Regions from separate parts of the Homo sapiens genome. Here region 2 is linked to region 1. Evidence: fine-mapped expression QTL. A gene starts in region 1. The other region holds a variant in brackets. All regions are shown on one strand. Distances are between the middles of the regions. Region 1 holds the start of ASF1A (anti-silencing function 1A histone chaperone). Region 2 has its middle 40 kb from the start of FAM184A.

The links. PIP is the estimated chance that this variant, and not a neighbour inherited with it, causes the effect.
Region 2: its variant is the best candidate, but not a certain one, in a credible set for the expression of ASF1A in whole blood (INTERVAL, PIP 0.64).

What each region holds. Positions count from the first base shown.
Region 1 is chr6:118,892,080-118,897,461 of GRCh38, forward strand. It overlaps ASF1A (anti-silencing function 1A histone chaperone), which reads left to right and starts at 2,073. Exons shown (of 4, transcript NM_014034.3): 1 at 2,073-2,443. The coding sequence starts at 2,335. The region is part of intron 8 of MCM9 (minichromosome maintenance 9 homologous recombination repair factor); the gene reads right to left. RefSeq lists silencers at 1,808-1,947, 2,738-3,267 and an enhancer at 2,268-2,357.
Region 2 is chr6:119,115,962-119,121,343 of GRCh38, forward strand. It overlaps a transcript of FAM184A not described here. Among named protein-coding and RNA genes, the nearest start is that of FAM184A, 40 kb to the left of the region's middle. The variant G/C (reference allele first, on the strand shown) is at 3,206.

The sequences.
Region 1 (5,382 bases):
TATGCCAGGACATATCTGAGGAATCCTTTCGGTCTCTCCTGGAGTAAGGTAGTATCAATGGTGAGGAAACTATTGAACAAAGTGCTCAACGACCCTTTAGTATTTCTGACAAGCAATAATACAAGAGTTAAGACAGGAGAAGCCTGGAGCTAATTCTTGCAGCTTCCAGTGAAATGTTGGGGAGTTTTTTCTTCTTAAATACTGTTGCATATGATGTGTTAAACAAAAAATTTTAAAGAAAATAAGCCAAATTAGTGGCATTCAGGTAGATCTTCTCAGTCCTTCATGCTGCACATCCACCAAAAGTGAGTTTTACAACTAGTCTCATTGTAACACTTACGGTCAGACTGCAAAATGCACGTGATTTTAACAAGCATAAAATGTCGTTTTCATGAGACTGACTAGACTCTCCTCTTAAGAGTACCTGTAATAATCAGACAACTGCATACACCAGTCTCACAGGAGTTTTAATCTTCAAATGGTCATTTTATCTTACATATACAGAGTGTCTTACAGCATACAGCAATTTCCACTTTATCTGCTAGTGTTAGGACCAGCACTAATAAGAATGAAGAGTATGTTGTTTATCAGCCACAAAAATCTGTGTCTATCACCATGGTTTGACTCTTAATACTCTAATGTCACAAACAACTGGCTTGAAGAAGTGTTTTTTGGTAGGTCCTATATCTAACTGTTCAATCCACTGACAAAAAAAGGGAACTCTTCCCCACTCTAACCGGTTTTCCTAAATGTACGAGGGGTTGACATTAGCTGTCTCACATTAACTTTCAAAAGACCATCAGATGAAAACGTTTCATCAAAAGCCACCTACTTAAGTATGAACAATGACCAAAGAATGACAAATCAAAATTCTGGGCACTATACTAAGAGAAAACTCTTCCAGAACACATACTTAAGAATTAATTTTCTCTCTGAATTTGGCCAAGTTTGGTGGTTTCATTCACAACATTTAAGGAAAAAAATGATGGTTTATGGCTAGCAGATAATAAAACAAACCTTTATACCACTTACTAAATAGAAACGGTTTAGGCTCACAAATATGTTAAAGCTTTCTCTTTCCCCGCAATGGTAGCCAAGCAGCATAAACGAATCAACATTTCCTCAGTTCAGACCTCAACTGGTTACAGGCAAGCAAGGGCTCCTCAGAATTTGCTTTACTAACGGTTTAGGTCAGAAATTTTTTTGAAGATCAAATGTCTTGCTATGTCTTTGTGTTCTTTTTCCCATCTCTATTACGTTTGTTGCCCTGTTGGTCTCCTAACACTTCCATTTTCTCCTTTTATGTTCCTGCTATGCTCTCCAAATGGCAGTAACCTGAAGTATAACTGATCACACCTCTTGTGATTTTTTTTTATTCTAGGACTTCCCAGATCTGGACTCCGAAGAAGACGCCCAGGTGCAAGCCCAAAGGTTACCTATTTAAATTTTCCAAGCACAGTGTGTAGAAAATCATTCCTCGCCCTTCATTTTGTGTTGCTTAACGGCGCTGTCGTGCCTAAACGTAGATACTGGCCAAGAGCTAGATTTCCAAAATGGCTTTGCTCCTTTCGAGCTGACATCGGTCTATAACATGCAATTTATTTCCCCTGCAGCCAATCTTTCTCTCTACTCCAAATACTACCCGATACGCAGAAAGCTGAACCTAACCCAGTGTAAACACCGACTCTCATCTGCTAAATTCAGCAAGGCCGGCAAAGCTGTTGCACTGATGTAAAAAGAGCGTTAAATCAAAAAACCAAAAAAACAAAAAAAAAAACAAAAAAACGCCAAAACACCCACACGAAGCCAACTGGAGGGGCGGGCGTCGGCCGGATCGCGCCCTCCCGCCGCAGCCACGCCTCCCCGCCGCGGCCACGCCCCCTCCGCCCCTCTCCGCGCCGCCGCCGGCGGCCTCCGCGCGGGCCTCCCAGCCCTTATTCCACTCACTTTGTTCTCCGCCTTTGTCCTAATCCACACCAGCAGGTGGAGCCGCAGTTAAAGTTTCCGAGTCCATTCCGGGAGCGGGAGCCCATCTTGCTGGCTGCCGAGGCCCTCGCTGGAGGAGGAGGGTCAGAACTCGGGTGCAGCCAATCGAGGGCAACGCTGCTACTTATCAGAGCAGAATGGGCTGTAGTTTAGTGAAATAGGAAAGCTGCAAAACACTGTGGAGTGCTCCCGTGTAAATAAAAAGAGGAAAAAAGTTTCTCAAGTCGCCGCTGCACGACGTCTGGCCGGCGCTGGAGCGGGGGTCTGCGCTCTCCCGAGCGGCCGCGCGCTGGACTTTATTGTGCCGCAACCAGCCCCAGTTCCCATTGTTTGTGTTTTTTTCAAAATATGGCAAAGGTTCAGGTGAACAATGTAGTGGTGCTGGATAACCCTTCTCCTTTCTACAACCCGTTCCAGTTCGAGATCACCTTCGAGTGCATCGAGGACCTGTCTGAAGGTGAGTGCGGCGCCCGTGCGCCCGGGCTGTCAGTTGCGGGCTGCAGACGTTGAAAGTTTCCCGGGCCGGGCCTCGCGCTGGGCGGCTGTGTTCGGCGCCTGGCGGCCGCGGGCTGCTCTGCGGAGGGAAACTTGAAGTTGATGGACGACGGCCGCCGAGGCGCGCGCGGCTTTCCGCCGCAGCCCAGGCGCCTGCCGGGCTCAACTTGCGAGGAACTTGTTTGAGCGGAGGAGCGGAGGTAGCCATGTTGTCAGCTTTGTCTGCGGGCGGGCAGCTCGGAGACCCGCACTCGCTCCCGCTGCGCCGCCTGAGGTCGCGCCGGGCTGGCTCCGCGCCGCCAACAGCCTCCGCGACCCTCCGGGCCCGAGCACGGAGGCTGGGAAGGGAGAGGCTGTGCGTGTGGTCGCGCCGGCGAGTTCGGAGCGGAGCCATCTTACCCCGAGTCGAGAATTGGGCCAGCGACCCCGGCGCACGGCGCCTCCTCTTGCCCCGCCGCCCGCCTGCCCCCGGCGAAAGGCAGGCAGGCACTCTCGAGAGCTCACGGTGGAGTCGCCGCACTCTCCGGGCTGGCCATGCCTGGCCGCTTCGGGGAGGAGAGCGAGGCTGTCCTCGCGCTGATTTCTGGCTTCCTCGACCAACCAGCGGGGGAGGCGGGCGCAGGCTCGGCCCCTCCGCGCCGCGGGCTGGGCGCCGGCGCTCCCCGGGGGCCGTGGGTCCTGTTCGGCCGGTCCTCCTCGGCCGGCGCCCGGGATGCGCCGGGATGCTGGCGCGCAGGCTCCCCAACCAACGTGGACTCCTTTCCCCTAATGACGAAAAGCTAATTTCAGGAAGAGAAATAGAGCTGAGGTAGGAAGTTACATTTAACCTAAAAGCAGAAATAAGATACTTAAATAATTTCCAGGACTTAATCTCTGCCTTATAAATAGTCTGAAGGAAGACTTTCTTCAAGACCGTGTTGAAATCTAAAATAACTCCACATCCAAATACAGAACACACCCTAAACATAAAACACAAACGTAGGCTAGGAAATTAAGGTCAACTCCTCATGTCAGTCCAAGAATTCTTGGTATTTTTTCTACATATATTTTAAGGTCTTAAAAATACGTATTTTTAATATCTTTAGTAATAAATATTTAGAAAGCTAAAACGACAATTATCTTTGCTTTAATTATCTTTTACTAAAGTAATTCAGTGCTTCATTTGCCAGTTTTGAAGGGGAAATAGTTTAACTTCATCGATGAGGGACATACTTTGAACTAGAAGTATATGTAAAAAATGCATTGAAGATGATTTAGGTAATCGTGGCATGTAAAACTTTTCATTTTAAAAACTAGTTTTTAATCTCTAAAATGTATATATCATATGTAAGGTTAATTTTAATTATAAAACAATATATATTCATTGTAATAAACTTTTAGAAAGTTGTACAGGCATATATAAAGTTAACAGTTCTCTGTACTCAGTGCCTTGCCCTATCTCCTTTCGGTAATCACAATTATTACTTTAACATGTGCCCCCGTTTTTTTTTTTTTTTTAAACCTATATAGAGCATAAATGCACATACATATATAGGGCAAATTTTGAAAGATGATTCATTTATTAAAATAATTTCAAATAGGCCATTGATAACACTAAGGGGTATTTTTCTTATTACTCTGAAGTCATTTGATTACTCTCCTATGATACTACTATTAATATAAGCATTGCAGCTACCAGGCCCATTTTTCACACCCAACAGTAATTTTTTTTTTATTGCCAACTGCATATAAAAATAGACAAAAGAAAAACCATTGATCGGTCCATTCCAACTTATACCACACTGTTTTTCAGATATACCACCAGAAGTTCTTCAAATTACAGGTATTTCTCAAGTGTTGCCTTCCATTTTAGGAGTCAGCTCTGAACAAAGAAGATAGATGACTCAGGATGTCGTTACAGGGCTTTTACATTGCATAGATGAAACCAGCCATTCATAAAGCCAAAACGTTCCATTTTTAACTGGGATCCATTCAGAACCCAGCTGAATCACATCAGGGATTTACAGTACTGGTGTCAAAAACATACTTATTTCCAATGGTATATTTCACTTCCTAGGCACCATTACTGAGCATTTATTTAGTATTTTAAAAAATATTTTAAGCTGAGTCATACTGAAGCTGCAAAGGAATCTTTCAAAAAGGTGCCATGCCTGTATACTCCACCTAGAGGCTATGTGGATTAAGGAAATTTTTACTTAGCAAAGGCTTCTAATAGGTTCCATACTTTTATATTACAGTTCTTTTAAAAATTCTGTTCTTAAAATTAAACTATAGAATTTTTTTTTTTTTAAATGAGACAGTGTTGCTCTGGCACTCAGGCTGGATGGAGTACAGTGGTGCAAACACAGCTGCTCCCTGCAGCCTCAACCTGGGCTTAAGCAATCCTCCCACCTTAGCCTCCTGAATAGCTGGGACCATAGTCGATGTGCCACCACATTGGGCTAATTTTTTAATTTTTTGTAGAGACGGAGTTTTGCCATGTTGCCCAAGCTGGTCTCGAACCCCTGGGCTCAAGCAGTCCTCCCACCCCTGCCTCCCATAGTGTTGTGATTATAGTGAGCCCACTGCACCCAGCCCAAACTATAGAATATTTTGAAAAGAATTTTCTTAATAAGTTATTTTGCCTCAAGTCTCAAAGCAGAGTTTGGCCACCGTTTTTCATACTTTCATCAGTAGCCCCAAACGTTCACTTTCCTTTAAGAGCTGCCCTGTAGCTTTGCTTCAGAAAAAGCCTTGAGGAATATTTGGTCTTAAGATAATTTGGTTCTTTCTAATATAGGGCTTATATCAAGGGTTAAGACAGCCTGAGACCCTGGCTGGATGTGCTTGATGGTCACCAAGACTGTACAAGTTTTGATTGACCATCCTGCCATTCTTAAATTTATATATATATATATCTTA
Region 2 (5,382 bases), 220 kb after region 1:
CCGTCTCAAACACACACACACACACACACACACACACACACACACATACACACACACAACGAGAGAGAGAGAGAGCAGGGACTAGAGACTGTCTTGGGGCTTTATGGTGGTTAGGAGATGGGGCCACAGTGAGGGTTTCCCTGTTGAGGGTTTGAATTTCCTATCAGCTCCAAAGGAGAGAGAGCATGGCTTTTTGTAATGGCTTGCTCAGAGGTGGGGGCAGAAGGGGAAAAGGGACTGGTGGGCTTGAAAACTTCCAGTAGTCCATTATCCTAAGTGATCTAACACAAAGGCAAAAAACCAGATACCGCATGTCCTCATTTATAAGTGGGAGCTAAACACTAAGTACACATGATCATAAAGATGGGAACAATAGCCACTGGGGATCACTAGATGAGGGAGGGAGGGGGGCATGGGCTAAAGGACCCCATGTTGGGTACTATGCCTATGACCTGAACGACAGGATCGTTGGGACCTCAAGCCTCAGTGTCACACAGTTTACCCATATAACAAATCTGCATGTGTACCCTTAATCTACAATAAGTTGAAACCTGTTTTTAAAAAAGAAAACTTTCAGTAGTCAGACATAAAAAATAGACTCAGGCTCTTTATTACAAATCCCAGTCTAGTGGAGGAGAAAAGCAGGTGAATCAATAAAAACATTACAAGGCGATAAATGTCCACAGTGCTGTGCAAGTCCAGAGAAATGAGTGTCCAGCTGCCTGTGGAAGACTTCATAAAACTGGCATTGACTGGATCTCAAAGGGAAGAAGACTCTCTCAAAGCAGAGAAGGATTAAGGAGGACAGGAGGAATTTTCAGGCTTAGGGAACAGTATTTGGAAAATCACAGATATATGAAAGTGCATAGTGTATTCTGAAAACAATCCACAGTCCCTTTGTAAAGAGTAAGGGGCATCTGGAGAGGAAGCAGAGGCCAGAAGAGGACCCTGGGGAGGAAGTGTGTGTATGTGAGATGAGCTCTGTATGGCATTCTAAATGTTTTGACTTTATCCTTTGGAAAACAGGAAAGCCTCCCAGACAGGATAGTATCTGCATTTTAGAAATATTATTCAGGTCTCAGGAGAATTGGTGAGTGACCAAGTAGAACTACCAGGTGCGACCAGCAGGGGACACGATTGCAATCATCGAGTTTGGAGGCTAGGAGGACATTAACCAAGGCTAGGGGATTGGGAGTGGGCATAGATTTGGGAGACAAGTCTGTGGATCATTTTGTGTGTAAGGGTGAGAGAGAGTGAGAAACAAACTCTTGGGATTTTAACTTGGACTACTGGGAATCAGGAATGATCAACAGATTTCTGATTTTGGTGACCATGTACATAGTGGTGCCCTTAACTAGGCTAGGAAACAGGGAAGAGGGAAGAAGAAATAGTGAGATCCATGTAGAGAATGTTCAATTAGCAATGCCCTGGCAGGGCTTCCTGGCTAGTCCTTTTCGTACTTAAAGTTGTCAGTAGGCCATACTGCCACACAATACATTTGAGTACAGCAATGTATAATCGGACCCTAACCCAGGCGGCCTCTTCCACTGTGGTCACCTTGAGAGGCTATATCAGTTCTGTTGCTGCTGTCAGAGGCCCCATTGCTTTGAACATGCCTGCGACTCAGAGGTAAGACCTGCTTCTTACGTACCTTCACGGTTTATGAAGTACTTTATCTTAGGTGAACCTCAAAACAACCCTGTGAAGTATACAGTAGGATTATCATTTTTTACAGATAACAAAACAGACTCAAAGAGGTTGCTTCTCTAGTTCACATGGTTAGAAATGGAGGACTTGAACCCTCCTTTTTAGTGATTAATTTAATTGGTTGAGGATTTGTAGGACCTGAAAGTTTAGCTAGGTGTGTGGAGTCTGCCTTTTAGTGCAAGTTTAGCCAGCCAAGGGTTGAGAGAAACAGGCAGGGGTGGGGGTATCCCAGAAGCAGGACCAGTCAGGGACTCAGTTACAGGAGAGAAGCAGTCAGGGACCAGAGAGCTGGAGGCAGGGTCTAAATTCTGGATCACCCAGAGGGTCAAGAAGAGATGAAGTGACACCAAAGATCACTCAGATTTTAAGGCAGAAACTTTGCTTTCTGGATTGCTGTATATGGCCTTTGGGGCATGGGAAGCTCTGACCTGCAGTTATTAATTAAGCCAGGACCTTTCCATAGATGCAGAAGTTTGGTCTTCCACAATCAAGGATAATTCTTATTTTTTATAATAATGAAAAACTGGAGTGAATGTAAAACAGTACACTGGCTCCACCATTCACTAGCTATAAAATTAATTTAACATTCATTTCTTCCTATGTAAAATGTGAGCATAAAAATCACTGATCTCCTAAAGTTGTTGTCAGTATTAAATAAGACAATATATATAAAGGGCTTAGAATAATACTTAGCTCATATTAAACACTCAATAATAGTTACCTTTATTATTGTGGGAAATGATCTCAACAGAGTTTATAAAGCTATTATGTTTCTCATGAGTTGTTGCGGGAAGTCAGGGACCCCAAACAGAGGGACTGGCTGAAGCCATGGTGGAAGAACATGAATTGTGAAGATTTCATTGACATTTATTAGATCCCCAAATTAATATTTTTATAATTTCTTACGCCTGTCTTTACTGCAATCTCTGAACATAAATTGTGAAGATTTCATGGACACTTATCACTTCCCCAATCAATACCCTTGTGATTTCCTATGCCTATCTTTACTTTAATCTCCTAATCCCATCATTTTCGTAAGCTGAGGAGGATGTATGTCATCTCAGGACCCTGTGATGATTGCGTTAACAGCACAAATTGTTTGTAGAGCATATGTGTCTGAACAATATGAAATCTGGGCACCTTGAAAAAAAAACAAGATAACAGCAGTGTTCAGGGAACAAGAGAGGTAACCTTAAACTGACCGCCAGTGAGCTGGGCAGAACAGAGCCATATTTCTCTTCTTTCAAAAGCAAATGGGAGAAATATCGCTGAATTCTTTTTCTCAGCAAGGAACATCCCTGAGAAAGAGAATGCATCCCTAAGGGTAGGCCTCTGAAACGGCCCCCTTGGGTGCGGCTGTCTTCTATGGTCGAAACTGTAGGGATGAAATAAGCCCCAGTCTCCCATAGCGCCCCCAGGCTTATTAGGATGAGGAAATTCCCGCCTAATAAATTTTGGTCAGACTGGTTGTCTGCTGTCAAACCCTGTCTCCCGATAA[G/C]ATGTTATCAATGACAATGCGTGCCAAAACTTCATTAGCAATTTTAATTTCGCCCCGGTCCTGTGGTCCTGCGATCTCGCCCTGCCTCCATTTGCCTTGTGATAGTGTATTACCTTGTGAAGCACGTGATCTCTGTGACCCACACCCTATTCGTACGCTCCCTCCTCTTTTGAAAATCACTAATAAAAACTTGCTGGTTTTACAGCTCAGGGGGCATCACAGAAACTACCGACATGTGAAGTCTCCCCCGGACACCCAGCTTTAAAATTTCTCTCTTTTGTACTCTGTCCCTTTATTTCTCAAACCGGCCAGTGCTTAGGGAAAATAGAAAAGAACCCATGTGAAATCGGGGGCAGGTTCCCCTGATAATGAGTTTGTAATAAGATGGCATACTTTAAAAATTGTTAGTATATGAACACAAAATAACCACAACTATAAAATTAAGAAAAAAAGAGACTGGAAAAAACTTCTCCAACATGTCATCAGTTTTTGCCTTTTTAAAAAAAGTAATAGCTATATTGAGGCTAGGTGTCGTGGCTCATGCCTGTAAACCCAGCACTTTGGGAGACAGAGGCAGGAGGATTACTTGAGTCCAGGAGTTCAAGACTGGCCTGAGCAAGATGGTGAGATTCTGTCTCTACAAAATACAAAAAAATAAAAAAATAAAAAATAAAAATTCGTAGGGCATGGTGGTTTATGCCTGTAGTCCCAGGAGGCTGAGTTGAGAGGATTGCTTGAGCCCAGGAGGTCGAGGCTGCAGTGAGCCATGATTGTGCCGCTGCAGCACAGCATGGGTGACACAGCAAGACCCTGCCCCAAATGATAATAATAATAGTCTTATTGAGACATAATTCACGTACCCTAAAATTCACTCTTCTAAAGTATACAGTTCACAGTCAGTTGTTTTTAGCATATTCACAGAATTGTGCAAGCATCACCAGCATCTAATTTTAGAAGGTTGCATCACTGCAAAAAGAAACCCTGCACCCATTTGCTGTTACTCATAATCCGCTTGTTCTTCCCAGCCCCTGGCAACCACTAATCTACTTTCTCTACGGATTTGCCTGTGGTGGACATTTGATAGAAGTGACATCATACAATATATGGTATTCTGTATCTTTCAGGAAACATAATGTTTTCAAGGTTTATCCATGTTTTAGTACGTATCTATATTCATTCCTCTTTATGGCCAGATAATACTCCATTGTATAGACACACTACATATTGTATAGACACTGTCCTTCAGTTGATGGACCTTTGAGTTTTTTCTACTTTGGGGCTATTATGCTGCCATCAGTATTAGTGTTCAAATGTGTGGACAAATGTTTTCGGTTCTCTTGAGTATATACACAGAGGTGGAGTTGCTGTGTCATATGGTAACTCTATGTTTCACATTTTAAGGAACTCCCAACTGTTTTCTAAAGTGGCTGTACTATTTTACAATCCCGCTAACAACGTATGAGGGTTCAAATTTCTCCATATCCTCATCAACACTTACTATGGTCTGTCTTATTAAATACAGCCATCCTAATGGGTGTGAAATAGGATCTAGTGGCAGAGCTGTTTCTATTTGAGTGGAGAAATGTATTACTTTTTTTTTTCACTCAATTTTATGGACTAAAATAAAGTGATGGTTTTTCTCTTTCTTTCTTTCTTTCTTCCTTTCTTTCTTTCTTTCTTTCTTTTTTTTTTTTTTTAGGAGACAGGGTCTTGTTCTGTTGCCCAGGCTGGAGTGCAGTGGCATGCTCATCCTGCCTCAAACTCCTGTGTAGCTAGGACTGTATGCAGGTACCACTGCATCTGAAAAACTTTCTTTTTTTTTTTGTAGAGATGAAGTCTTGATATGATGCCCAGACTGCTGTTGAACTCCTGGCCTCCAGTAATCCTCCCACATTGGCCACTCAAAGTACTGGGATTATAGGTGTGAGCCACCACACCTAGCCCTGTATTATATTTTTAATAGGAAAGTTTTTCATTTGTTTTGAGACAGGGTCTCACTCTGTCACTCAGGCTGGAGTGCAGTGGCAAGATCATGGCTCACTTTAGCCTCAACCTCCTGGGCTCAAGAGATCCTCCCACCTCAGCCTTCCAAGTAGCTGGGCCTACAGGTGCATGTCATCATACCTGGCTAATTTTTGTATTTTTTGTAGAATAAAGATAGGGTTTTGCCATGTTGC